2 linked regions of the Homo sapiens genome follow. The protein of the gene in region 1 interacts with the protein of each later gene in a biochemical or structural test. Each region holds a gene or a part of one and is shown in the gene's direction. Other genes may lie near its edges.

Region 1 (3,948 bases):
ATCATACCCAGCTAACTTTTTAAAAATGTTTTTGTAGAGATGCAGTCTCTGTGTTTACCAGGCTGGCCTTGACCTTCTGGGCTCAAGTGATCCTCCTGAGTAGTGGGTACTACAGGTGTGCACCACCATGCCCAGCTAAATTGACAGTTTTCATCAGTCTGTTTATTTTGTCTAATGTTAGTATATCCACATCAGCTCACCAGCTATCTTGTGTATTTTCCTTTTTTTAGATGGAGTCTCACTATGTTGCCTAGGCTAGACTGTAGTGGCTACTTAAAGGCACGATCATAGTGCAATGCAGCCTCAAATTCCTGGGCTCAAGTGACCCTCCTGCCTTGGCCTCCCAAGTAGGTGGGACTGCAGGCATGTACCACCATACCCAGCTACCAGCTCTCTTTTGGTTATTGTTTCCATGGTCTATTTTTTTTTTCCTTTTCCTTTTAACCTATTTGTGTCTTTGAATCTAAAGTGCCTTAGCCAGGTGTCATGGCTGACACCTGTAATTCCAGCACTTTAGGAGGCTGAGGTGGGTAGATCACTTGAGGCCAGGAGTTTGAGACCAGCCTGGCCAACATGGTGAAACCCCATCTCTACTAAAAATATTTTAAAAATTAGTTGGGCGTTGTGGTGTGCACCTGTAATGCCAGCTATTGGGGAGGCTTTAGGTGGGAGGATAGTCTGAGCCATTGGAGATCAAGGCTGCAGTGAGTCGTGATCTGATTGCATGACTGCTCTCCAGCCTGGGTGACAGAGCAAGACTGTCTCAAAAAAAAAAAAAAATCGCTTCTTAGCCTTTTGGCTAAGATCAAGTGTAGTATCTATTCCTATCAGTTTAAGTGCCTTAATTTCTCTTCCACTTTTTGGACAGGTAGTTTTGCTGGATATAGAATTCTTATTAGCTTTTGTCTTTCAGCACTTTGATTATGCCACTACTGCCTTCTAGCCTTTGTGGTTTCTGATGAGAAATCAGCTGTTAATCTTACTGAGGATCTCTTTTATGTGAGACGTTGCTGCTCTCTTGCTGCTTTTATGTTTCTCTGTTGACCACAGTTTGACTATGGTGTATCTTGGTGTGGATTTCTTTTTTCATTCTGTTCGGAGTTCGTTGAGCTTCTTGGATATGTAAATTAATGTTTTTAATCACACTTGGGAAGTTTTTGGCCACAATTTCTTCAGATTTTTTTTTTTATATCTAACTCTCCTCTCCCTCTTGGACTCATTATGTTTATTGTTGGTATACTTGATGTGCCACAGTTCTTAGACTCTGTTCATTTTTCTTTATTCTTCTTTCTTTATGTTTCTCAGGGACAGTTTTGGTTGCTGTTTTTCCTTTATAAGGGCCATACTTTGTTTCCTTACATGCTTTGTAATTTTTTGTTGAAAACTGGACATATTGTGGCAATATGTGGCAACTCTAGAAAGTCAGATTTTCCCCTCTTGCCAGTGTTTGTTACCGCTTGATGTAGTTGTTTGTTTTTTTTAGTGGTGTTTGTTTTTTTTTTTTTTTGAGACGGAGCTTTGCTCTTGTTGCCCAGGCTGGAGTGCAGTGGCGTGATCTTGGCTCACTGCAGCCTCCACCTCCTGGCTTCAAGTGAGTCTCCTGCCTCAGCCTTCCAAGTATCTGGGACTACAGGCACCTGCCACTGTGCCTGGCTTTTTGTATTTTTATTAGAGATGGGGTTTCATCATGTTGGCCAGGCTGGTCTCGAACTCCTGACCTCAGGTGGCTGGGATTACAGGTGTGAGGCACCATGCCCGGCCCTAGTGATTTTTCTTATATAATTTTTTAAAGTTGGTATTGTTTGTCATGCATGGCTGTACAATTTCTGTCCCATTAGTTTTAGTGGTCAGCTAATGATTGGACAGAGATTTCCTTAAATTCTGTATACCAAAAACAAAAAATCTGCAGAGTGTTCTGTATTTGTGTTGGGGCACACCTGCAATACTCAACCAAGAAGTTTACAACGTTGCTTCAGCCTTCGCTATCTGCTTGTGCAAAATGCAAAGTTAGGGCACATGTAGAGCTTAGGGGCCTTCTCAGCTCTTTCCTAAGCATATGTACTGCCCTGGTCATGGGTGTGTCTTTTTAGATTCCCAGGTATATGTTGGACCTTTTCAGAGTCCTATTCCCCAGAAACATCTCACTCCCTAACCTCTTCTTCCAAACTTCTTGGGTAGTCTGTTTGCACCAGTTGCTTTCATTGCTTCAGGCAACAGAGACTAAAGCATTTTCCTGTAAGTGTTTTCAGCAAACGCTACTCAGGAGTAGCTTTAGCACAAGGTGAGTTAGAGTTACAAAGGTGAAATAAAGACAAGCCTCTTTTTTTTTTTTTTTTTTTGAGATGGAGTCTCGCACTGTTGCCCAGTCTGGAGTGCAATGGTGTGATCTCAGCCCACTGCAACCTCTGCATCCCGGGTTCAAGCGATTCTCCTGCCTCAGCCTCCCAAGTAGCTGGGATTACAGGCGCCTGCCACCACACCCTACTAATTTTTGTATTTTTAGTACAGACAGGGTTTCACCATGTTGGTCAGGCTGGTCTTGAACTCCTGACCTCAGGTGATCCACCCACCTCGGCCTCCCCAAGTGTTGGGATTACAGGCATGAGCCACTGTGCCTGGCCAGGACAAGCCTTTTGATCAGGTCATTTTAGAGGGTCAGATCGGCTTAAGATAGTTTGTAAATGAGGTTTATTCTGCTCCCACCTGGACCTATGCCTTAAATATGAACTGTTATTTTCAAGGCTGCTACTGAGTGAGGAGCAGGGGATAAACAGGGTAAGTTAAAATGCCAGAAAGCTCACTGTTCTTACTGCGTTTCACTTGTTTTGAATAAGTTGCTGCAAGCTTTTAGCTAGTTTACAATGTTCTGAAAAAGTTGATTCTGACAGGCTTTGGCAGGTTTTTAAAATTGCTTTTGTGGAGTAATGGACTTCTGGAGTTCTTTTCTCTGCCATTTTCACTGACATCACTCCTTGATTCACTCTCTCTCAGTTCTTGAAGTATTTTCTTTGTCTTTGAAGTTTAAGAGCTTAATTCAGATGTGTTGAGTTGAATATCTTGTATTAATTTTCCCAGAACATAGTGGGTTATTTCAGTGCTGCACAGTCGTGGTATGGTTGTGTGTTTTCATAGTTTCTTGAAGTAAGAATTATTACAAAAACTTTTGTAATTTGGGCTGTGTTTTTTGGGCAAATCTGCTGATCTCGCTCGGGCTTAACTCATCCAGCTGTAGTCATTTGATGTCTTTACTGTGGCTGGTGGTCTAAAACATCCTTACTCCCATATTTGGAGTCTTGGCACTGTCTGTTAGCTGAGTCTTTTCTTTCTGCATCATTCAGCTAGGCTGAGCGTCTTTCCATGCCATAGGAACGTTCTAAAAGACTGAAAGTGGAAGTTGAAGGCCTCTCAAGACCTTTGCCATCTTCTAATTGCCGCTCTAGCTTTTCAGCCACAAGTCAGGCCTTTTTCTTTCTCACATTTTAATAATCTTGTTTTTCCTCCCATTATGTTTTCATCTTTGATTGTTTCTTCTTTCAGTGGTATTTTGGTAAAAGACAGTAAGTTTTGTTGCTATGAGTTCATATACACTCAATCCCTAGGAGCTGCACCCCTGTTGATAGATTGGGTTGGGGACACACATACCCACTGGGAGAAGAGAGACTCTGGAATGAGTGAGATTATCAGCATACTTAATATTACTCCTGTTATGGAGGTAGCCAGCAAATTTTTTTTAATTGATACAATAATTGTAATGTATTCATGGGGTATGTAGTGATGTTTTGATTCATATAATGTATAATGATCAGATCAGGATAATTAGCATATTCATAATTTCAAACATTGTGGGAATGGGAATGTTCAGTGATGGGAATGTTCAGTATCCTTCTAGCAATTTGAAACTCTATTATTGTTAAGTATAGTCATCCTACAGTGGTCTAGAACTTACTC
Region 2 (3,600 bases), on another chromosome or scaffold:
TTAATCCCATTTTATAAATGAAAAAATGGAAGTATTAAGAGATTAAGTAACTTTACTGAGGTCATATAGTTTCTAGCAGATGGAATGAGAACTTGTGTAGGGCCTGTAACTCCCAATCCCATGTCCTTTCTCCTAAAACATTCAGTGATTCATTCAACAAATGTTTACTGAACACCACCTATGTGCCAGGCACAGTTTTAGGTCCTGGGTATCTGAGAGTGAACAAAATAGACAAGACCTTGCTCTCCAAGAGCTTACACTCTAACTGGAGAGAGACAATAATATAGTATGTCCGGGTGTGGTGGCTCTCACCTCTAATTCTAGTACTTTGGAAGGCTGAGGTGGGAGGAGCGTGTGAGGCCAAGAGTTTGAGACCAGCCTGGGCAACATAGCAAGACCTTGTCTCTACAAAAAATAATTAGCCAGGCGTGGTGGCATGTCTGTAGTCCCAGCTACTCAGGAGGCTGAGGCAGGAGGATCAATTGAGCCCAGGCTGAGGTGAGAGGATCGCTTGAGCCTGGGAGATTGAGGCTGCAGTGAGCTATGATTGCAACATTCATTGCACTAGAACCTGAACAACAGAGTAAGACAATGTATCTAACAAAAAAAAGAGGGTGAGACAGAATGTGTATATATGTTAGTCTATATGAGGCTCTTTGGTGTTAATTTGGCAAACACCTGAAGGAAAAAGGGCAATGACAGAGTGGTGTTCAAGGCAGAGAGTACAGCAAATGCAAAGTTCTTGAGGCAAGAGCATATTTGGCTGTCATTCCATCACTTTTTTCTTTAAGATACTGTATCGGTTAACTATCCTCATGTACCAAAGAACAAATGTAAACATACTGCATGACTTTGAGTGATTAACTACATAACTTTGACATGTCAACAATCTCTTATGGTGGTCATCTTTCCAATAAATTGAGTTGAGCTAGAAAATGTGTATTGCCAAAATCCATTGATTTACTTTAAAAATTAAATCACAGGTTGCGGATGCCCGTAATGGTGGCATTTCCACACACAGTACTGTTGCTGATTTGATGAGACACAAATATATTCCAACCCCATTTTCAAATATTAAAAGTTGGTAGGGTCCTCAACGAAACCTAACAGTGACTTCAAGTTGAAAAAAAATGCTTAAAAGGAAAAAAACAGGGAGAGCCCACCTTTTGGCCTGTATCTCTCAGAAAGAGGGACAAGAGCGGTGGGAACGTGAGGAACTTTTAAAATGTGAGAGCGTTACTCTGGGGAAACCTGGAGTTTACTCTTGGCCTTTACTCGCTGGACTGTCATAGTTCTCACATTTGTGAAGCGAGTCTGGGCTGGCGGCCCTCAAGCCCTATCCTCCCCCGATGCGGAAGTCTTGCTTCTCTGTGCCTCCCAGGCTTGAGAACAGCAGAGTCTGGCCGCTCAAAACGAAAGCTTCACGAACGTCGCTCGCTCGGTGCTGAGAAAGAAGCCTGACGCGACCCGGGAAACTTGACCGACGCACGCCCGCCCGCTTGCCCCGCCCCCTAACGGCTTCCCGGCTTCCCCCGGGTCCTATGCAGAAAAGACGCTGGGCCTGGCAAGCGGGGCCAGTAGCGGCTTCCGGGAGGAGTTTTGGCCTCCACACGGCTCCGTCGGGCGCCGCGCTCTTCCGGCAGCGGTAGCTTTGGAGACGCCGGGAACCCGCGTTGGCGTGGTTGACTAGTGCCTCGCAGCCTCAGCATGGGGGAACATGGCCTGGAGCTGGCTTCCATGATCCCCGCCCTGCGGGAGCTGGGCAGGTAGGGCTAGGCCCAGCCTGGGTCCTGCATCCTCCTCCGCTGATTCCGGCTTGGGTTTCACGTGCTCTCCCCTCCCCTGCTGCGCTATGGCTGGGATCCCCTAAGCCCCCGCTGCGGCCCTTGTGGAGATGCTCCGTGGCTGATTTGGGCGCTTCTCCCTCAGAGTGCCCGTTGATAGCACATGGGGCAGTCGCCACAAACCTGCGGGAAGCCGGTCCGTGGGGGAGAGAGGCGTCTGCCGGCCCTGGTTTACCACTCACCCCGATCGAGAGTTTGCTTCCTGCAGCTGGAGGAAGAGTCCCTGCTGATCGCTTTCTGGTCACTTTTCTACACTCATTTTCTTCTCGAAAATCTTTTTCCTTAGACGAGGGACTTGACCCATCAGTTTCTGTTCTTTGTGATCACTCGTGGAGGAATTGGTTTTTAGCCTTACATTTTGTCCCCAAACTGCCCTTGAAAGAAAATCACCGCTTCTCATTTTCTGCAAGTGACATCACTTGCTGGAAAAGGCAGTTTTTTTCTTTGAAGTGAAGTCATAGTACATACTGAAGATGTGACCTCCCTCGTATTGATCGTCCAGTTCCCGATCCGTTATTTTAGTCAGAAATTGGAGAGATAGACCCCTGGGTCCACAAAATCTCAGCGTGCACAGAGTGTTGCCAAAATTTGGAGACAATTTAATATTTCATTTGCAAATGCATGTTGTCTGTAAACCTCATGAAAACCAGTATCTTACCACAAGGAGGGAGAGGTGTTGATGGCTCTCACACCTCTTCAATACACAGGCAGGCTTCCCTGAACCAGGCCTAAAGACTCGGTAGAGCTTGTTTTGCTTTGTTTGTTTTAATTCTACACTACTGCGAACAAGAAATAAATAAGCTTGTGCTGCTACCGCAGTTAAATTATCATTTGGAATAACTGCTTCCCAATTTCTTAAACTGTTTGAAAACTTTCCACACAAAGTCAAAGCTGACATTAAGCCAATGGGATAGCTACTTCTCTTTCTTTTTGCAGCGCAGTTGTGTTCATTTCCACTGGTTGGCCATCCAAATAATCTAGTCTCAATATATGAATAAAAGGATAAATGAAGGGACCATTCTTGTCGTAACTGCATCACTATTTTTGAGTGTGTGAATTTTTTCCACTTATCTGTGGCAAGTATACTTTGTGTTTAGTTTATAAAATAACCTCTACCTCTCTAAAAGAAGAGGAAGAAAAGTGATCATTGTAGGAAGTTGGTTTACAAATTTCATCTTTCAGGCTCATTGTGAAGCTGAGTATATTTTTGCCACTTTGCTTTAAAGTAGAATTAACTGGTTAATACTTCTCTTCCCTCTTCTGTCTTCCTCCGTGAGTCCTGTTAATAAAAATAATTGGTTCTTGGATTATATATAGTCGGTTTCATCAGTAGAGTTTATGTTACCTTTCATTTATTTGTAGCTATTCCAAGAGAAAGAATAGAAAAACTGACCCACAGAGAGTTGTCTAATAGTTTTTAATTGTCATGGCTTTTTCATTACAACTACTTGAATCAAAAAAGCTAATCAATTTTCATAGTATATCCATGACATAGAATGAAACAAGTGTTACCACTGTTTAAGAAAAAGGGACAGAGAAGTTGAAGAACCAAAGGCACAGCTAGCAGATAACAGAGCTAGGTTTCAGATTCAAGCTTTCAAGGCCTTTTCTTCCAAAATGTTTCCTCTTAATTGACTATGGCAATTAGACTACTGAAAAAAAAAGATATTAGTGTTCTAATTTATGGGCTGCTCTTCCTCAGTCCCTCAGATAAATTTTGTCCTATTGTTTTTTTGCTATTAGCAGTCTGCTCTGC

Evidence for each region. The genes of interacting proteins can lie anywhere in the genome.
Region 2: of the proteins of CHEK1 (region 1) and ATR, one has a biochemical effect on the other in vitro, tested with the Homo sapiens proteins (7 studies listed by BioGRID, with this or other methods).

The regions. Positions count from the first base shown.
Region 1 is NC_000011.10:125,648,967-125,652,914, forward strand, and holds part of CHEK1 (serine/threonine-protein kinase Chk1), read left to right. Parts: intron 1-3,948. UniProt on the Homo sapiens protein: Serine/threonine-protein kinase which is required for checkpoint-mediated cell cycle arrest and activation of DNA repair in response to the presence of DNA damage or unreplicated DNA.
Region 2 is NC_000003.12:142,576,812-142,580,411, reverse strand, and holds the start of ATR (serine/threonine-protein kinase ATR), read left to right. Parts: upstream 1-1,678; 5' UTR 1,679-1,707; coding exon 1,708-1,766; intron 1,767-3,600. UniProt on the Homo sapiens protein: Serine/threonine protein kinase which activates checkpoint signaling upon genotoxic stresses such as ionizing radiation (IR), ultraviolet light (UV), or DNA replication stalling, thereby acting as a DNA damage sensor.